Linked DNA regions of Homo sapiens: region 2 is linked to region 1. The links come from fine-mapping of genetic effects on gene expression. Tissue or cell type: whole blood. Region 1 holds a variant in brackets; the other region holds the start of a gene. All regions are shown on one strand. Distances are from middle to middle.

Region 1 (10,908 bases):
GTAGAGACAGGGTTTTGCTATGTTTCCCAGGCTGGTTTTGAACTCCTGAGCTCAAGTAATCCACCCACCTCGGTCTCCCAAAGTGCTGGGATTACAGGCGTGAGCCACTGCACCTAGCCAATTGCCAGTTTTTATAATAAAGGTCTGGTTTCCTAGCGTGTTCCAGAGCTGGCCATTTAACATTTTGTAGTATCATTATGAACTTATAGATTTAAACGTTTGCTGTTTCTCAGTCCTTTGCAGTTAGCCTCCTTATTGATGCTCAAGTTCTAAACTTTTCCTTATTGTTCTTCTAAACTTTTTCACATTTTTTATTAAATTTAGTCTCGTAAATTATCTTTTTTGTTGCTTTTGAATGTTGTATTCTTTTACCCAGTTGCTTTTTTTTTTTTTTTTTTTTTTGAGACGGAGTCTTATTCAGTCGGCTCACTGCAACCTCCACCTCCCGGGTTCAAGCGATTCTCCTGCCTCAGCCTCCCAAGTAGCTGGGATTATAGGCTCACACCACCATGCCTGGCTAATTTTTGCGTTTTTAGTACAGACAGGGTTTGTTTGTTTTTGTTTTTTGTTTTTTGTTTTTTTGATATGGAGTCTAGCTCTGTCACCCAGGCTGGAGTGCAGTGGCACAATCTCGGCTCACCGCAACTTCTGCCTCCCGGGTTCAAGCGATTCTCCTGCCTCAGCCTCCGGAGTAGCTGGGATTACAGGCACCCACCACCATGCCCAGCTAATGTTTGTATTTTTAGTAGAGACAGGATTTCACCGTGTTGGCCAGGCTGGTCTCGAACTCCTGACTTCATGATCTGCCCACCTCGGCCTCCCAAAGTGCTGGGATTACAAGCGTGAGCCACCGTGCCCAGTCTGTTTTTTTGTTTTTGTTTTGAGACAGAGTTTCATGCTTGTTGCCCAGGCTACAGTGCAATGGCATGATCTCGGCTCACTGCAACCTCTGCTTCCCAGGTTCAAGCAATTTCCCTGCCTCAGCCTCCCGAGTAGCTGGGATTACAGTCATGCGCCACCATGTCCGGCTAATTTTGTATTTTTAGTAGAGACAAGGTTTCTCCATGTTGGTCAAGCTGGTCTCGGACTCCCGACCTCAGGTGATCTGCCTGCCTTGGCCTCCCAAAGTGCTGGGATTACAGGCGTGATGAGCCACCACTCCCGGCCCTTTACCAGTTACTTTTAATAATACTACTGACATATACGTGTATCAGTTTCAGAATGCTTTACACACAGCCATCCAACTGCATATTGTTTTGTTACAGTACTTCTATATTTGGTTTTCCAAGTATATCATCACATCATCTACAAATACTTGTTTTCATCTTCAAAATAGGAAATAATAGGACTAATTGTCGGGACCTTTTTCATGTCTGACTTTAAAATAGATGTCTCCAATGAATTCTCAGTTAGTATTGTACCAGAAGTAGAATCTACATTTTAACAAGAGCCCTGGGTGATTCACATTTATTCTACTGGATAATTTTTATTTCTATTAGACGAGTTTTTGGTTTGTGGTTAGGTTCGTTTGTACTTGTGTCCCTCTAAAGGAAAGAAAATATGTTCTTTTTTCCCAGATTTGGAGTCAGCATATGAAAATAAGAGTTTACCTACAGAAAAAAACATTCATGAAATAAGGGCTTCCAAAAGGAATTCAGATAGAAGAAGTAAATCCCTTGGCCGTAACTGGATATGTGAAGGTACGCTTGAAAGACCACAGCGCTCCAGAGGGAGGTATGTCAATCAGATGATCATCAATTATGTCAAAAGACCTGCTACTAGAGAAGGCACCCCTCCTAGAACACATCAGAGACATCATAAGGAGAATTCCTTTGAATGTAAGGACTGTGGGAAGGCCTTTAGTCGTGGCTATCAACTTAGTCAACATCAGAAAATCCATACTGGTGAGAAACCTTATGAATGTAAAGAATGTAAGAAGGCCTTCCGTTGGGGCAATCAGCTTACTCAACATCAAAAAATTCATACTGGGGAGAAGCCCTACGAATGTAAAGACTGTGGGAAGGCTTTTCGATGGGGCTCAAGCCTCGTTATTCATAAGAGGATTCATACTGGTGAAAAACCCTATGAATGTAAAGACTGTGGAAAGGCCTTTCGGCGTGGTGATGAGCTCACTCAGCACCAGAGATTCCACACTGGGGAGAAAGACTACGAATGCAAAGACTGTGGGAAGACCTTTAGCCGTGTGTATAAACTTATTCAGCACAAGAGAATTCATAGTGGGGAGAAGCCTTACGAGTGTAAAGACTGTGGGAAGGCTTTTATTTGTGGTTCAAGCCTCATTCAGCATAAAAGAATTCACACAGGTGAGAAACCCTATGAATGTCAAGAATGTGGGAAGGCCTTTACTCGAGTCAATTACCTTACTCAGCATCAGAAGATCCACACCGGTGAGAAGCCTCACGAATGTAAGGAGTGTGGGAAGGCCTTTCGCTGGGGTTCGAGCCTCGTTAAGCACGAGAGGATACATACGGGCGAGAAGCCGTACAAGTGCACAGAATGTGGGAAGGCCTTCAATTGTGGCTATCACCTCACTCAGCACGAGAGAATCCACACAGGCGAAACCCCGTATAAATGTAAGGAGTGTGGGAAGGCTTTCATTTATGGATCGAGCCTCGTGAAACATGAGAGAATTCATACCGGGGTGAAACCCTATGGGTGTACAGAATGTGGGAAGAGCTTTAGTCACGGCCATCAGCTTACACAACATCAGAAAACGCACAGTGGGGCGAAATCCTACGAATGTAAGGAGTGCGGGAAGGCATGTAACCACCTAAACCATCTCCGAGAACATCAGAGGATCCACAACAGTTGAAGAGCCTTTTGAACGCAGTAGCCCGCTCGTATCTATGGTTTCGCTTTCCACAGTTTGTTACCTGCAGTCAACTGCAGTTCAAAAATATTAAATGGAAAATTCCAGAAATAAAGAATTTTAAGTCTCAAATGGTGTGCCCTTCTGAGTAGCGTGATGAAATCTCTCGCTGTCCGGCTCCAGCCGGCCGGGGATGTGAGTCATCCCTTGGTCCAGCACATCCACGCTGTATACGCCACCCACCCTGCTAGTGACTTAGTAGCCGTCTTGGTGATCAGATCAACTATCCCAGCATCACAGTGCCTGTGCCCAAGCAGTCCTCACTTTGCTTAACAGTGGCCCCAGAGAGCAGGAGTAGTGATGCTGGTGATTCGGATATGCCAAAGAGAAGCCACAAAGTGCTTCCTTTTAAATGAAAAGGTGAAAGTTCTCAACTTAAAAAAGAAAAGAAAAAAATCATATACTGAGGTTGCTAAGATCTACATGACAATAAGATATTTTGGGAGAGAGATACGTTCACATAATTTTATTACATATATTGTTACAATTGTTCTATTTTGTTAGTTACTGTTGGTAATCTCTTACTGTGCCTAATTTATAAATTAAACTTTAGATATGTATGTACAGGAAAAAATGTAGTATATAGTATCGTATATATGTACAGGAAAAAAACGTACTATCTGTGGTTTCAGGTGTCCACTGCGGGTCTTCAAACGTACCCCCCTCAGGTGAGAGGGGACTGCTGTACAAAGAATATAGGAAGGCCTCTAGACTACATCCATTCCTTCCTCAACAGGAGGAAAATTCCTGGTACAGTTTAACGTAAGGCTTCACTGATCACTGTTGTTTTTGTTTTTGTTTTTGTTTTTTTGAGACAGAGTCTCACTCTTGCCCAGGCTGGAGTGCAGTGGCACGGTCTTGGCTCACTGCAACCTCCACCTCCCAGGTTCCAGCAATTCTCCTGCCTCAGCCTCCCCAGTAGCTGGGATTACAGACATGCACCACCACACCTGGCTAATTTTTGTATTTTTAGTAGAGACAGTTTTCACCATGTTGTCCAGGCTGGTCTCAACTCCTGACCTCAGGTGATCCACCCACCTTGCCCTCCCAAAGTGCTAGGATTACAGGCGTGAGCCACTGCACCTAGCCCACTGATCACTCTTCTGCTTACAGAATATCAGAAGTCATTCTAGAGGCAAATTTGAAGAGTGGAAAAATCACTTTTTCTGAATGATCTTGTTTTTGGTGTAGATGTTTTTATTGTGTGGGTTAGTTTAATGAATACATAAAGACTACCAGTACCATTCTGTCTTTACTCCGTGGCATCTGTGGAATAACCCTGCTAATGTAACACGTGAGAAAGCCTTTGGTCATGCCACCCACTCTACCAGTTGTCCCCACCATCCCCCGCCCTCCTCCCTGTGAGACACTGGGCCAAAGGCTCACTACCCCTGTGCGTTGTCCAGCACACAGACACTATGTGCATTATTTGTACATAAGGATAATCACATCTACCTGAGACTGCTATCATGGAAATTAAATGTTTGGTACATGTAAAGTCTTTGAAAGTGTAACTGGAATATTGTGTAATTTTAATAAATAATAACTATTGTTGTTTTTATGATCATTACTACCATTTGTGTTGCCATTAGTGAATTTTTACAAGAAAACTCCCTGTGGGTGCAATGAGTCTGGAAAAGACCATTGAGTCTTCTAGAAGAAAACATTAAGAGATTATTGGCACAGCCGTGGGTTACGCAATGATTTCTTAGTACACAAAACACAGCAAACATAAAAAGTTGTTACACTTCATCAAAAGTACAAAGTTCTGTTCATCAAATGATGCTGTTAAGATAGGGAAAAGACAAGAAACAGGACTGGAAGAAGATGTTTGCTCTAAGGTACACCTGACAAAGGAACTCTCATAGAAAATATAAAGAATCCCTCAAGTTGAAAAAAAAATCAATTTAAAGGGGAGAAAACTTCAGCACGTCTCAACAGAAGACCACCAAATGGCCAATAAGTAAGTGAAAATGTATTCAATGTCATTGCTCCTCAAGGAACTGTAGAGTAAAACCACAATGTGCTGTCACTCTAGACAGTCACCAGGATGATTAAATTTAAATCACAATAACAAGGCTGATTTCAGATGTCTCACCACAAAGAAGGAGGATAAGGGAGCGAGGTGATGGATATGTTAATTAGCTTGATTTAATCCTTCCACATTGTATACATGTATCAGAACATCACATTGTACTCCATCAATATAATACAATTATTATTTGTCAATCAAATATTAATAAAATCAAAGATGAGCAGGTCTCTTTGTTGGATATTCAAACACGACCTATTCAAGAAGGAACCCCGCCAGCAGACTGGACCTCTGCTAAACCCTAGCGGTGCCCACAGCAGGGACAGCGCGGGAGGGAGGTGAGCGGACTGGTCCTGGGGACGGGGTCAGGGCCCAGAGTAGAGTTGTTACAGGAAAGGGGTGCCAATCCAGACCCCAGGAGAGAGTTCTTGGATCTCACACAAGAAAGAATTCAGGACAAGTCCTCAGTGCAAAGCAAAAGCAACTTTATTAAGAAAGTAAAGTGGTGGGACCAGGTGCGGTGGCTCACGCCTGTAATCCCAGCACTTTGGGAGGCCGAGGTGGGTAGATCACCTGAGGTCGGGAGTTCAAGACCAGCCTGGCCAACATGGCAAGACCCCATCTCTACTATAAATACAAAATTAGCCAGGTGTGTGGGCACACATCTGCAGTCCAGCTACTCGAGAGGCTGAGCCAGGAGAATCACTTGAACCCGGGAGGCAGAGGTTGCAGTGAGCTGAGATCACACCACTGCACTCCAGCCTGGGCGACAGAGGGAGGCTCCATCTCAAAAACAGAAAAAGTGGCGAAAGGACAGCTACTCCACAGACAGTGTTGGACGCTCCTGACGTTAGGAGGAACGCATCCACCCTAGGTCCAATGCTCACATATATGGGGAGACGTGCTCTGCTACAAGGGTTTGTGATGAAGGATTCATTCTCTTCATTATTTTGCAAGAATTGATATTATCTTTAAAGCAAAACTAGGAATGCCTTTGTTCTCCAGATATCAGGATATCTGGACACTCCCAAGTGTGGGTCTGTTTAGTAACTGTTAATAATTTGTTCCCTTAACCGTAAACATCTGGAGGCTCGGAATTGCCTACATTTCTCAGAATGCAGCCCAGCAAGTCTCAGCCTCATTTTCCTAGCCCGCACTCAAAATGGAGTCGCTCTGGTTCAAACACCTCTGACAGAGTCCTGGGGGAGGTG[C/A]GGACACAGACTCAGGGGAGAGACCTGAACTATCTTAAGATGGTCCTAGGCTGAGGGTAGGATTACCTTAGGGAAAGGACCAGAGCCCATAGTAGGAATCGGAGAATATGGATTGGGGAGGACTCTAGACCCCATGGGAGTGAGTTTGACGGGGCAGAGGAGTGGCTAATGGGCATGGGAGGGCCTGGCTAGAGCTCAGGGATGAATTCTGGGAGAGAAGGGATAGAGGCCTGGAGAGAGGCCTTGGGGCTGGGAGAGGACTGGAGTGCTCCTGAGAGCAGCTGCGGAGATGGAGGGCGGACGCTACATCCTGCAGGAGAGCCTTAGGCACGGGGGATGGTGGTGTGGTTAGAGCTCAGGGGTGTCCTATAAAGGTTGGCAAAGGATCCAGAATATAGGGTTGAAGTCCTGCTTGTTTGATTTACCTCAAGGGTAGGGTTACGTTTCAATCAAAGCTGCTTAGTTCTCGGATTACAAATACCTCAGCATTAGGTTAAGGATTCAGATTCTCCAGGGGTGGTGGGGAAGTGAGGGAGCATGTTTGGGGAAGGGGTTCCAGACCCAGGTTTCAGAGCTGGGTATCTTTCTGGTCTAGGCTTCAGTACCCTTAGGAATCAACCTCATAGGCGGCACCGTCCTGCTTAGTGCCCCTTTCCCCTGTGGACCCTACGCCAGCCTCAGCAGAAGGGGCCCAGGGTCCCTTCCTTGCCACCAAGAGCAACACGCATGGTGGGGCCACTGCTCTTCCCAGCATTCCCGCATAAACAGAGGAGGAGCTGGGTGGGGTAAGGAGAAGGGCAGGGGAAGGAGTGTGAAGAGGAGAAGCAGGTGGAAGACAGTGAGAGGAGGCTGGAGGAATGTGGGAGTAGGGGTAGGGAGAATACTGAGAAACGAGGAGGCTGTGCAGAAAGGCAGCACTGGCCTGGCCTTACAGGACACAGCCAAGGCACAGGAAGACAGCCTGGGTGGACAGGGTTAGTTCCCAGAAGGAAATATGGGAAGAATGTGTGTCAGGCAGGACTCTTGGCTCAAGGAGCAAAATCCAAAGTTTATATAAAAAGCCCAGAGGTGGGCCAACGCGGTGGCTCACGCCTGTAATCTCAGCACTTCGGGAGGCTGAGGCGAGTGGATCACTTGAGGTCGGGAGTTTGAGACCAGCCTGGCCAACACAGTGAAAACCTGTCTCTACTAAAAATGCAAAAATTAGCCCGGCACAATGGTGCACACCTGCAATCTCAGCTACTCGGGAGGCTGAGGCAGGAGAATCACTTGAACCGGGCAGGCGGAGGTTGCGGTGAGCTGAGATCCAGCCAGTGCACTTTTTTGAGACAGAGCAAGACTCCATCTCAAAAAAAAAAAAAAAAAAAAATCCCGGAGGTGGCCAGGCGCAGTGGCCCATGCCTGTAATCCCAGCACTTTGGGAGGCCTAGGCAGGCAGATCAACTGAGGTCAGCAGTTAAAAACCAGCATGGCCAACTTAGTGAAACCCTGTCTCTACTAAAAATACAAAAATTAGCCAGGCGTGGTGACCCACGCCTGTAATCCCAGCTACTCAGGAGGCTGAGGCAGGAGAATGGCTTGAACCCAGGAGGCTACGGTGAGCTGAGATCGCCTCGCTGCACTCCAACCTGAGCTACAGAGTGGCTAATTTTTGTATTTTTAGTGGAGACGGTACAGTGGTTCATGCCTATACTCCTAGTACTTTAGGAAGCCGAGGTGGGCAGATCACCTGAGGTCAGGAGTTCAAGACCAGCATGGCCAACATGGTGAAACTCCGTCTCCACTAAAAATACAAAAATTAGCCAGGTGTGATAGCGCATGCCTGTAATCTCAGCTACTCAGGAGGCTGAGACAGGAGAATCGCTGGAACCCAGGAGGCAGAGGTTGCAGTGAGCCAATATCGCTCCACTGCACTCCAGCCTAGCCGGCAGAGCAAGACTCCGTCTCATAAAAAAAAAAAAATAATAATAATAATAAAGTTTACCCTAGCTTGGGCAACATAGTGGGATTCTGTCTCTACAAAAAATAAAAATATTAGCCAGGTGTGGTGGTGCTCACTTGTAGTCCCAACTACTCAAGAGGCTGAGGCAGGAGGATTGCTTGAGCCCAGGAGGTGGAGGCTACAGTGAGTGATGATTGCATCACTGGATTCCAGCCTGGATAATGACAAAAAAACAAACAAAACAAACAAAAACCCTACAAAGAGCAGTAACAACAACAACAAAAAAAAAACAGGGCGGGTACAGTGGCTCACACCTGTAATCCTAGCACTTGGGGAGGCTGAGGTGGACGGATCACCTCAGGTCAGGAGTTTGAGACCAGCCTGACCAACATGGTGAAACCCCGTCTCTACTAAAAATACAAAAATTAGCCGGGCAAGGTGGCGCATGCCTGTGATCCCAGCTACTCAAGAGGCTAAGGCAGGAGAATCGCTTGAACTCAGGAGGCGGAGGTTGCTGTGAGCCGAGGGTGTACCACTTCACTCCAGCCCGGGCGACAGAGTGAGACTCTCTCAAAAAAAAAAAAAAAAAAAACTACAAAGAGCAGTAAAAGCCATGGGGTAAAGGGTAACCATGAAGTCAAAGAGCTTTACTAAAGTAAGTCATTATTGAGCCGGGCTTGGTGGCTTACGCCTGTAATCCCAGCACTTTGCGGGGCTGAGGCAGGCAGATCACCTGAAGTCTGGAGTTCAAGACCAACCAGGCCAACATGGGGAAACCTCATCTCTATTAAAAATACAAAATTAGCTGGGTGTGGTGGCAGATGCCTGTAATCCCAGCTACTTGGGAGGCTGAGGCAGGAGAATTGCTTGAATCCGGGAGGCGGAGGTTGCAGTGAACCGAGAATACGCCCCATTGCACTCCAGCCTGGACAACAAGAGTGAAACTCTGTCTCAAAAAAAAAAAAAAAAAAGGAGGTACATGAGTTGTACGCAAAAGCTACAAAACAGTTGAAGTTGTAGAATAATTTTTTTAAAAAACCTAAATAAATGGAAGGGTTTTTTTTTGTTTTTGAGACGGAGTCTCACTCTGTCGCCCAGGCTGGAGTGCAGTGGTGCACTCTCAGTTCACCGCAACCTCCACCTCCCCGGTTCAAGAGACTCCTGCCTTAGCCTCCTGAGTAGCTGGGACTACAGGCACCTGCCACCATGCCCAGCTAATTTTTGTATTTTTAGTAGAGCCAGGGTTTCGCCATGTTGACCAGGCTGGTCTTGAACTCCTGACCTCAGGTGATTCACCCGCCTTGGCCTCCCAAAGTGCTGGGAATGAAAGGATATTTCATGGTCCTGAATTGGAAGATTTAATATTGTTAAGATGATGGCTGGGCACGGTGGCTCATGCTTGTAATCCTAGCACTTGGGGAGGCTGAGGGAGGAGGTTTGCTTGAGCCCAGGAGTTCCAGACCAGCCTTGGCAACATGGCAAGATCCCATCTCTGTATTATTTTTTTAAATAAAATTTCAAAGATAACAATATTACCCAAAGCAATATATACATATTCAATGCAATATCAATAAAATACTCAATGACAATTTTTTGCAGAAATGGAGAAACCAACTCTTAGAGTTGTATGGAATTTCAAGACACCCCAAATAGCCAAAATAAAGAACAGTGGAGGACTCACACTTCTGGATTTCAATTTTTTTTTTTTTTTGAGACGGAGTCTCACTCTGTCACCCAGGTTGGAGTGCAGTGGCATGATCTCGGCTCACCACAACCTCCACTTCCCAGGTTCAAGCAATTCTCCTGCTCAGCCTCCCGAGTAGCTGGGATTACAGGTGCCCACCACCATGCCTGGCTAATTTTTGTATTTTTAGTAGAGATGGGGTTTTGCTATGTTGGCCAGGCTGGTCTCAAACTCCTGACCTCGGATGATCTACCTGCCTCGGCCTCCCAAAGTGCTGGGATTACAGATGGAGCCACTGCACCCGGCCTGGATTTCAAAAAAATTTTAAAAAGCAATAGTAATTAAAACAGTGTGGTATACGATAATGGCAAAAGGATATACATACATGGCTGGCGTGGTGTTGTGCACCTGTAATTCCAGCTACTCAGGAGGCTGAGGCAGGAGAATCGCTTGAACCCAGGAGGTGAAGGTTGCAATGAGCCGAGATTGTGCCACTACAGTCCAGCCTGTGCAACAGAGTGACTTTCTGTCTCCAAAAAAAATTTTTTTACTTAAAAAAATTACATAAATATTATATGTATAATATCTAAAAAACAAAATACAAAAATAGCCAGATGTGGTGGCACCCACCTGTAGTCCCAGCTACTCAGGAGGCTGAGGCGGGAGGATCACCTGAGCCCATGAGCCCAGGAGGTCGAGGCTGCAGTGAGCTGTAATTGCGCCACTGCACTCCAGCCTGGGCAACAGAGTGAGACCCTGTCTCTAAAATAAATAAATAGGCCGGGCGCGGTGGCTCACGCCTGTAATCCCAGCATTTTGGGAGGCTGAGGCAGGGGGATCATGAGGTCAGGAGATCGAGACCATCCTGGCTGACACTGAAACCCCGTCTCTACTAAAAATACAAAAAAAAAAAAAAATTAGGTGGGCATGGTGGCGGGCACCTGTAGTCCCAGCTACTCGGGAGGCTGAGACAGGAGAATGGTGTGAACCCAGGAGGCAGAGCTTGCAGTGAGCCGAGATCACGCCAGTGCACTCCAGCCTGGGTGATAGAGTGAGACTCCATCTCAAAAAAAATAAAAAATAAATAAATAAATACAAGCTAGAAGGGTTTTGAATGTTCACAATACAAATAATAAATGTTTGAGGTGA
Region 2 (8,896 bases), 42 kb before region 1:
GAAAAGAAAATGTTATTAGGAAAATATGCCAGGCATGGTGGCTCATGCCTGTAATAGCAGCTGTTATAGCAGCCAAAACGGACTAAGACAACTGTATTGCTGAGACACAGTGAAAGGTCATTCAAGATCAGGGGGTGACATCTTAAGTCCTAGAAGTCAAAAGTCTAAAGTGGGTCTCACTGGGCTAAAACCAACATGTTGAAGACTGTGTTGCTTTTTGGAGGCTCTAGGAGGCATTCTCTTTCATGGCCTTTCCCAGCTTCTAGAGGCTGCCCAGATTAGCTCATGACCCCATCCTACTTTTTTTTTTTGATACAGAGTCTCACTCTGTTGCCTGGGCTGGAGTGCAGTGGCACCATCTCAGCTCACTGCAAACTCCACCTCCCAGATTCAAGCGATTCTTCTGCCTCAGCATCCTGAGTAGCTGGGATTACAGGCATGCACCACCACACTCGGCTAATTTTTGTATTTTTTTAGTAGATGGGGTTTCACCAGTTGGCCAGGCTGGTCTCGAACTCTTGACCTCAAGTGATCCGCCCACCTCGGCCTCCCAAATGCTGGGATTACAGGTGTGAGCCACTGCGTCCAGCCCTATCCTACACCTTTAAACCCAGAAAAGACAAGTCAAGTTCTTCTTGTATCACCTCATTCCCCACCTGTTTCTGTCATCACATGTTTCTCTTCTTCAGAACTCCCTCACCTACTTTTAAGGAACTTTGTAATTGCACCAGGCCCACCTAGATAATTCAGGGTAATCTCCGTATCTGAAGGGTGGCTGGTTAGCAATTTAAGTCCATCTGCAACCTTCTTTATCTTGCCTTGTAACATAACATATTCCCAGGTTCCAGATGTAGGATGTGGATATATTCTGCCAGTAACAGGCCTGTCCATCAAACTTTCCTGAATAGCTAGAATGTACCCACTCCCCTATAACAATGGTCTGTTTTCCTTACTAATCTTTTTTTAAATTTGGGGCTCCCTATAATTATATACTTTATAATGGGATTAATGAAAGCCTGTAACCAAAAAAAAAAAAAAAAAAAAATTATTCCCCTAAGAAGCACACAAAGAGGAAACTAAAAATTACCCTTATTTATTTATTTATCTATTTATTTATTAAGACAGAGTCTTGCTTTTGTTGCCCAGGCTGGAGTGCAATGGTACAAGCTCGGCTCACTGCAACCTCTGCCTCCCGGGTTCAAGAGATCTGCCTCAGCCTCCTGAGTAGCTGGGATTACAGGTGTCTGCCACACATTCAGCTAATTTTTGTATTTTTAGTAGAGATGGGGTTTCGCCATGTTGGCCAAGGCTGGTCTCGAACTCCTGGCCTCCAGTGATCCACCTGCCTTGGCCTCTCAAAGTGCTGGGGTTACAGGTGTAAGCCACTGTCCGGCCGTAATTACCCATATTTATACCATCTAAAGATAATTACTGTTAACACTTAGTATGTATGTTTACTGTCTTCCCCTCCACCTCTAAGCATGTGTGTGTTTTGTTTCTGGAACATTGAATCCTATTAATCATGTAAATGAGGCAAAAACTCTCCAAATCATAGTTTGTAAAAGAAATCCAGCCCAACCACGGGTCACATTATGTCTGTGTGCATGTGGAGAGAAGAGAGATACCAGTCATGTTTCCTTGCTTTGAAAAATTAATCATTGATGAATATGAAAATAGTCACTGGATACCTTACAAATATGGACTTTGGAAATATTCCCAAGGTTATATGTGCAAGTAACGAATATTGACTGTAACATTTCAAAGGTATATGAAATAGAATGAGATAGCACTAGTTTAAAATGTTCACTTTTTTTTTTTTTTTCTTTTTTGAGATGAAGTCTTACTCTGTCACCCAGGCTGGAGTGCAGTGGCGCAATCTTGGCTCACTACAACCTCTGCCTCCCAGGTTCAAGCGAATCTCCTGACTCAGCCTCCTGAGAAACTGAGATTACAATCTCACCACCATGCCCGGCTAATTTTTGTATTTTCAGTAGAGACAGGGTTTCACCATGTTGCCCAGGTTGGTCTTGAACTTCTGACCTCAAGTGATCCGCTCACCTTGGCTTCCCAAAGTGCTGGGATTACAGGTGTGAGCCACTGCACCTAGCTGATAAGAATCTTTAAACTAGATTTTTTAAGGAACTATCATGTCTCTGTCTCCCTAGTTAAAAGGAAATAGCAGACTTGTTACTTTTATGAAAATGGATTGAGATATGTTACTGATTTTTTAGTAATAACAGCTACCTTATCTTAATTGTTATATATGACTGTGTGTTTCATGTGGATGATCCTGTTCAAACAGTCATACATTGTACTATCTTTCTTGTGGTTTTACCAGTGAGGAAACTTTACCACACTGTGAAGTTAATAACTATCAGAGCTCAGATTAACACCCTCAAATCAGACCACAGAGCCTGTGTTAATTTCACCAAAACATGTCTGCTCAAATTATATGTACCATTTTAACCTACCCTTTTCCCTTGTTGATTCTTCAGAAGTTTTCTTAATTAATGAGTCAGTATTATTAGGAAATGTACTCTATGTCATTGTATAACAGACCATGGTTTAATCTGATTTTCCTTTATCCTCCACTGCAAGATTTTCATTTTTAAAAATTATTCTCGACTGGGTGTGGTGGCTCACGCCTGTAATTCCTGCACTTTGTGAGGCCGAGGCAGGCGGATCACCTGAGGTCGGGAGTTCGAGTCCAGCCTGACCAACATAGAGAAACCCCGTCTCTTCTAAAAATACAAAAAAAATTAGCCGGGCGTGGTAGCGCATGCCTGTCATCCCAGCTACTGGGGAGGCTGACGCAGGAGAACCCCTTGAACCCAGGAGGCGGAGGTTGCAGTGAGCCGAGATCGCACCATTGCACTTGAGCCTGGGCAACAAGAGCGAAACTCCGTCTCAAAACAAACAAACAAACAAACAAAAAATTATTCTCTGGAAATTCTGGGTAACGTCAGTGGATTACATCAATGTTAATCTTCTGGTTGTGGTATTATATACTACAATCACCAGCTGAGGTAACCAGGTGAAAGGTACACAAGATCTCTCAATTTTATTTCTTGTAACTACATATGAATCTAAAGTCTATCTAATTAAAAGAGAAAAAGATTTTCAGAAAAAAAGCATTTTGTGAACATACTTCAACATTGTGTACAACTATAGCTACTTCCTTGGCATAAATACCAAAAAGTGGGATTTTGAGTCAAAATGAGACTGTGGTTAAGTACCTGCAACATCCTGTAGACCCTGTGACGTTAGTACTTGGAATGAGAGCGGGACTCACGGGGCATAACTGCTACCTGTACATTGTTTACAATGCAGCAAGCAAGGGACACCGAATAGCAGCTCCGGCAGCCTGTGCTAGCGGCCTGCAGAGAATTCCAGGTGACGCTCCAGAGGGGCTAGGAGAGGATACCCTTCTGAGGACAGCCATGGCTCGCCCGGCATCACCCCACTCAAGAGGCCAGACGGGGTCCCAGCTGGGGTGACACAGCTCCTTTCCCAGTCGGGAAGGGGCGTCTGCAGGGACCAGGAAGGGCTTAGCTTGGGGCTGCCCGCTCCGGCACCGACCTGGGACGCGCCCTGAGGCCCCTGCCTGGGACCGTCCCGGACTACATTTCCCAGAGACCATCCAGGAGTACGCCGTGCTGCATGCTGGAACACGGGGCTTGGGGCTCTGGTTTCCCCCGACGGCCCCGCGTCCTCTTCTAGCCTCACCCTCTCCCGAGGCCCCAGCGTTGGGGGACTACCGGGTGCGTCTGCGGCTTTGGGAGAGTGGGAGGAGGGAAAGGGATGGGAGGGGTGCACGCACACGTGTCAGTGTGTCCGCGTGTCAGCATCTGTGCAGGCGCACGTGTGTGTCGGGCTCTGTTGTGTCTGCACATGCGTGTCGGCATCTGTGCGTGCGCACACGCCCGTCAGGGTCTGTGTGCCCGCACAGGCACGTCAACAGCTGAGCACGCTATGTATCGGGGGTCTGTGTACGCTCACATACGTGTCGGGGTCTGGGTACGTGCACATACGTGTAGGGGTCTGTGTGCACATGCGTGTCGGGCTCTGCTGCTGTCTGCGCGCTGCGGCCGCTGGGTGCGCGTGCGCATGCGCGCTGGCCTCCAGGGGGTGGCGGGACCGAGTGTGTGACGCACTTGCGTGGGAGTACGAGGCTGACGCGGCGGCCCTGTCCCCGTAACTGTGACACGGGTGCACGCGAGCGTCATTGGGGGCGATGGGGGCCGTGCTGGGTGCGCGTTTGCACCAGTGACGCAGCCGCTGCATCTCCGCCAGTCCGCGCAGGTGAGATTGGTGCGCGTGGCTCCGAGGGGAGACGGGCACGGGGCTTCTGACGGTGACGCACTTGCTGGAGAGTGTGGGGTGACACAGCCGGGCTCTCCCCATAACTGGTGACCGGGGGTGCTCCAGAGGCTTTGGGTCAACGCAGCCCGTGCCTGTGAACCTCGGCGGTGCGTCCCTGGGACTCTGCTCCGTGAGGTGCGCTCTGGGGGTTGTGCGGGGGCAGCGGTCGGGACGGGTCTCCGTGGCCCACGGATGCACCTCTGCACCGTGTGGGGTGGTGGGGCCCGTAGCATGGCCGTGCTGGGCGTTAGTGGGTATGAGGGGCGCAGATGTGTCTCAGGACAGAGTGAGCTGTGGTGAGGCTGAGCTGTGCAGACTTGTGCTGGGATGGGTGATCGGGCCTTCTGGGTGACGCAGGTGTGTGTGACAACACAACCTGTAGCTTCAGCGTCTCTGTGCTGGGATGGATGATCGGGCCTTCTGAGTGATGCAGGTGTGTGTGACAGTGCAACTTGTAGCTCCAGCGTCTCTGCTGCTTCCCCTGCCTTCACCTCCTAACCAAGCGGTACCTGCCTGAGAACAAGGGCCGCGGAGGGACGTGAGCGCCTGAGCCTCGCCTGGAAATTCACCAGCAAGAAGGCAGAAACAGCCATGAGGTGACGCTTTCAGAGCCAGAAGTGCTGTGCATGCAGGCCACCTGAGTGACAGGGGACGGTGGCCTCAGGAGTAGAATTCCTCCTGTAGAGGGACAGGTCCCTGATGTGGGAGACAGGGAGGGGGGCAGCTCCACGCGTCATCATCTCAATCGCCACAGCGTGCTCTTCAGGAATCTCCCAGAAACTCCATCTCGGGGCCTCGTATTTCTCATTGGTTTTATTAGGTATGGCAGGTGTTACCCTTCCGGTTCTGTTTTCCCCAGGCCAGCATCCTTCAGAAAAAGCATCCCCGAGGAGGAAGACGAATCGTTAAACATCTGAAAGGGTCAGGTGAGTATCCTTTTTTTTTTATATTAAATGATATGTGTTTATAAGACTTAAGACCAAACATTAAAGGTAGATGACCAAGATTTGAGTCCTGTTTCTGCCTCTTAGCTTTTTGAGCCTTCTGAAGATAGGCTTGTGAGGAGGGTGAAATGCATTAACACGCATAAAACCCATAGACGCGCACCCCTGAGTGGGAGTGCACAGTGAGTGCTGCTGTTTTGTGCTAAGTCTGGATGTCTGTACATCAGGAGCAACGTACATATGAAGGTAACTGGGATGGGTGTTTGCAGGTTCACAAAATGAACCACAGCCTCAAATGGCCTAGAACTGTTATCCTTAACCTGAGGGCCTGCCTTTAACTCCACTTACAACTTTCCAAGGGACATTCTGTGTATATTTACTGTATGTGATTATCAGTGTTAGTGTATCTGTCCCCCACCACCACCACCCTAAGGAGATACTCTGTAATTTCATGGCATTAAGAAGGATGGACATGCCCCAAAGACATTTAGACCCATTGGTCTACAATCGAAGGCTGTGTACCTTGACCACAATTATTGTTCAGGATGGTGGAAATGGTTAAGTAATTATACCACGTTCATTTCATGGAATACTCTGCAGCTACAAAGAAGTAAGTTTAGTTATAACCGTAAGAAAGAAAAATGCACCTGACATAATATTAAACACTACTAATAGTTATTAACAATAGTAAATGAAGGAAATGCTTCAGTTGCCTACAAATTCCATTGAATAAGATTTTTGTAAATACCTTATCCAACATGACATTTTAGTATATTATTTAGGATTATTCATGAATCCTTCAAAAGAGAGGAGCCTGGCCACATTTATTGAGCGCATTTTTGTACCATACTCTATTGTGTTTTGCACACACTCCTTAATTTATTCTTACCTTAGTCTGTAACAAAGTACCATAGACCGGTGGCTGAAACCACAAACATTTATTGCTCACAGTTCTGGAGGCTGGAAGTCTGAGAAGAGGGTACCAGCATGGTCAGGTTCTGATGAGGGCCCTTTTCCAGGTTGGAGACTGTCACCATCTTGCTGTGTCCTCTCACGGAGGACATGTGTGTGCTTGGAGGCTCTTTGGCAGAGCTCTAGGAGGTGTGTGTGCTTGGAGGCTCTAGGAGATAGTCTTTTTTTTTCTGTAATTGAGATGGAGGCTTGCTCTGTTGCCCATGCTGGAGCGCAGTGGCACAATCTTGGCTCACTGCAACCTCCACCTCCCAGATTCAAGTGATTCTCCCGCCTCAGCCTCCCGAGTAGCTGGGATTACAGGCACATGTCACCATCCGCAGCTAATTTTTGTATTTTTAGTGGAAACAGGGTTTCTCCTTGTTGATCAGGCTGGTCTCGAACTCCTGACCTCAGGTGATTAATTAGCCGGCCTCAGCCTCCCAAAGTGCGGGATTACAGGTGTGAGCCACCGAGCCTGCCCTGTGGGAGGTATTTTATGTCCTTGCTTTTGCTGGCTTCTAGACACTGCCCCACATGCCTTGGTTTGTGACCCCTTCTTCCATCATCAAAGCTGCAAAGACAGGCCAAGTCCCTTTTCCATCACGTCACTCTGACCCTACTTCTTTCTGTTCATCTCACCCTCTTCTCATTTTGAGGACCCTGGTGATTACATTAGGCCCGCTGAGGTAACTCAGGATAATCTTCCCTATTTTAGTGTCAGCCCATTAGCAATTTTAGTCCGCCTGCAACCTTAATTCCCCTTTGCCATGTAAGGTAATATCATCATAGGTGCCAGCATTACCATATTGACATGTTTGAGAGAGGCAACGAGAGAACAATAATCATATTTCTTTTCTTTTTTTTTTTTTTGAGACAGAGTTTCGCTCTTGTTGCCCAGGCTGGAGTGCAATGGCGTGATCTCAGCTCGCCGTAACCTCTGCCTCCTGGGTTCAAGCAATTCCTGCCTCAGTCTCCTGAGTAGCTTGGATTACAGGCATGCGCCACCACACCCAGCTAATTTTGTATTTTTAGTAGAGACGGGGTTTCTCTTTTGTTGGTCAGGCTGGTCTCGAGCTCCCGACCTCAGGTGCTCTGCCTGCCTCGGCCTCCCAAAGTGCTGGGATTACAGGCGTGAGCCACCGTGCCCGGCCTATATTTCTTCTTTTATGTGTTTTTGTTTTGTTTTGTTTTGTTTTTTCCTTATAGACAAGGTTGTGTTCTGTTGCCCATGCTGGAGTGCAGTGGGTTGATAATAGTTCACAGCAGCCTCAATCTCCTGGGCTAAAGTGGTCTTCCCACCTCGGCCTCTCAAGTACCTGGGATTACAGGCACCAGCCACTGTACCCTGCTCCTATCTTGTTATATTTCTTATAATAGGATTAATGCAGGCCTGCTGGGGGCAAAGAAAGAAACAGTCCCTAAGGAGCCCTTAAAGAAGAATCTCCAAATTACCCATAATTGTACCATCCAGAGATAATCACTGATGAACATTTTAAATGGCCAGCACTTTGGGAGGCCAAAGCGGGATGATCACTTGAGGCCAGGAGTCTGAGACCAGCCTGGGCAACAGTGAGACTCCATCTCTACTAAAATAAAAAATTGAAAAAGATTAGCCAGGCATGGTGATGCATACCTATAGTTTCAGCTACTCAGAAGGCTGCTGTGGGAGGATCACTTGGGCTTAGGGGTTCCAGGCTGCAGTGAGCCATTGCACTCTAGCCTGGGCAACAAAGGGAGACAGTGTCTCAAAAAAAAAAACAAGAAAAAAACATCTGAAATGGTATTTATGTTTCTAGGCCTCTTCTTTGCCTCTAAGCATGTGTGTGTTTTGTTTTTGGAGTATTGAATCTTGCTAATTCATCATAAATGAGTCAGAGACTCCAAATCTTAATTTATAAAAGGAATCCAACCCAGCCATGAGTCGCATTACACCTGTGTGTGTGTTGGGAGGGGAAGGGCTATGCCAGTGATCTTTGCCTTGTTTTGAAATATCTCACATATTTCTACCTTGTAGGATTAGAAATCCATCATCTGAATCTAACCTATGGTAACAAATTTTCAAGAAAGACAGCCTTTTAGAATTAGATTATAGAATGTTAATGTTCCTTTCCCAGGACATCACAATAATCACCCATGAACACTAATCACTGGGTGCCTTGCAGATACGGACTTTCCATGTGACATTAGCAAGATTATTTGTACAAGTAACAAATATGGGCTGTATAAGTAACATTTCCAAGATAGAAAAAGAATTAGATGACAGTATCTCATATGTATCTCCCTTATCCCGTGGAACACAAAATTCAGCCTCTTGCTAATGTTCTCAACTTGGCATCTTCTCAGATTAGAGTCATTAAATTAGATTTTCTTATGCAGAACAATGTCTCTGTCCCCCTAGTTGCTGATGGAAAGGGAACATTTCCTCGTTATATTTCTTAGAATCTCTTTTGCTAATGTATTCATTTTGTTAAACAAAATGAATTTCATTCTTAACATCAGACTCTGAATGTTATTTTTGGTTAATATTGATTACGCAGACAGCGGGTTCAAGGAAGGCACTTTTGTTTTTCTTGAGACAGAGTTTCGCTCTGGTTGCCTAGGCTGGAGTGCAATGGCGCAATCGCGGCTCACCGCAA

The links. PIP is the estimated chance that this variant, and not a neighbour inherited with it, causes the effect. A credible set is the group of variants that fine-mapping cannot tell apart.
Region 2: it holds the start of ZNF331, and the variant in region 1 is the best candidate, but not a certain one, in a credible set for the expression of ZNF331 in whole blood (INTERVAL, PIP 0.66).

Annotation. Positions count from the first base shown.
Region 1 is chr19:53,575,120-53,586,027 of GRCh38, forward strand. It overlaps ZNF331 (zinc finger protein 331), which reads left to right. Exons shown (of 6, transcript NM_001079906.2): 6 at 1,578-5,150. The coding sequence ends at 2,833. Among named protein-coding and RNA genes, the nearest start is that of ZNF331, 42 kb to the left of the region's middle. RefSeq lists an enhancer at 1,737-2,936. The variant C/A (reference allele first, on the strand shown) is at 6,134.
Region 2 is chr19:53,533,995-53,542,890 of GRCh38, forward strand. It overlaps ZNF331 (zinc finger protein 331), which reads left to right and starts at 4,151. Exons shown (of 6, transcript NM_001079906.2): 1 at 4,151-4,302; 2 at 5,222-5,288. RefSeq lists enhancers at 3,879-4,395, 4,181-4,230.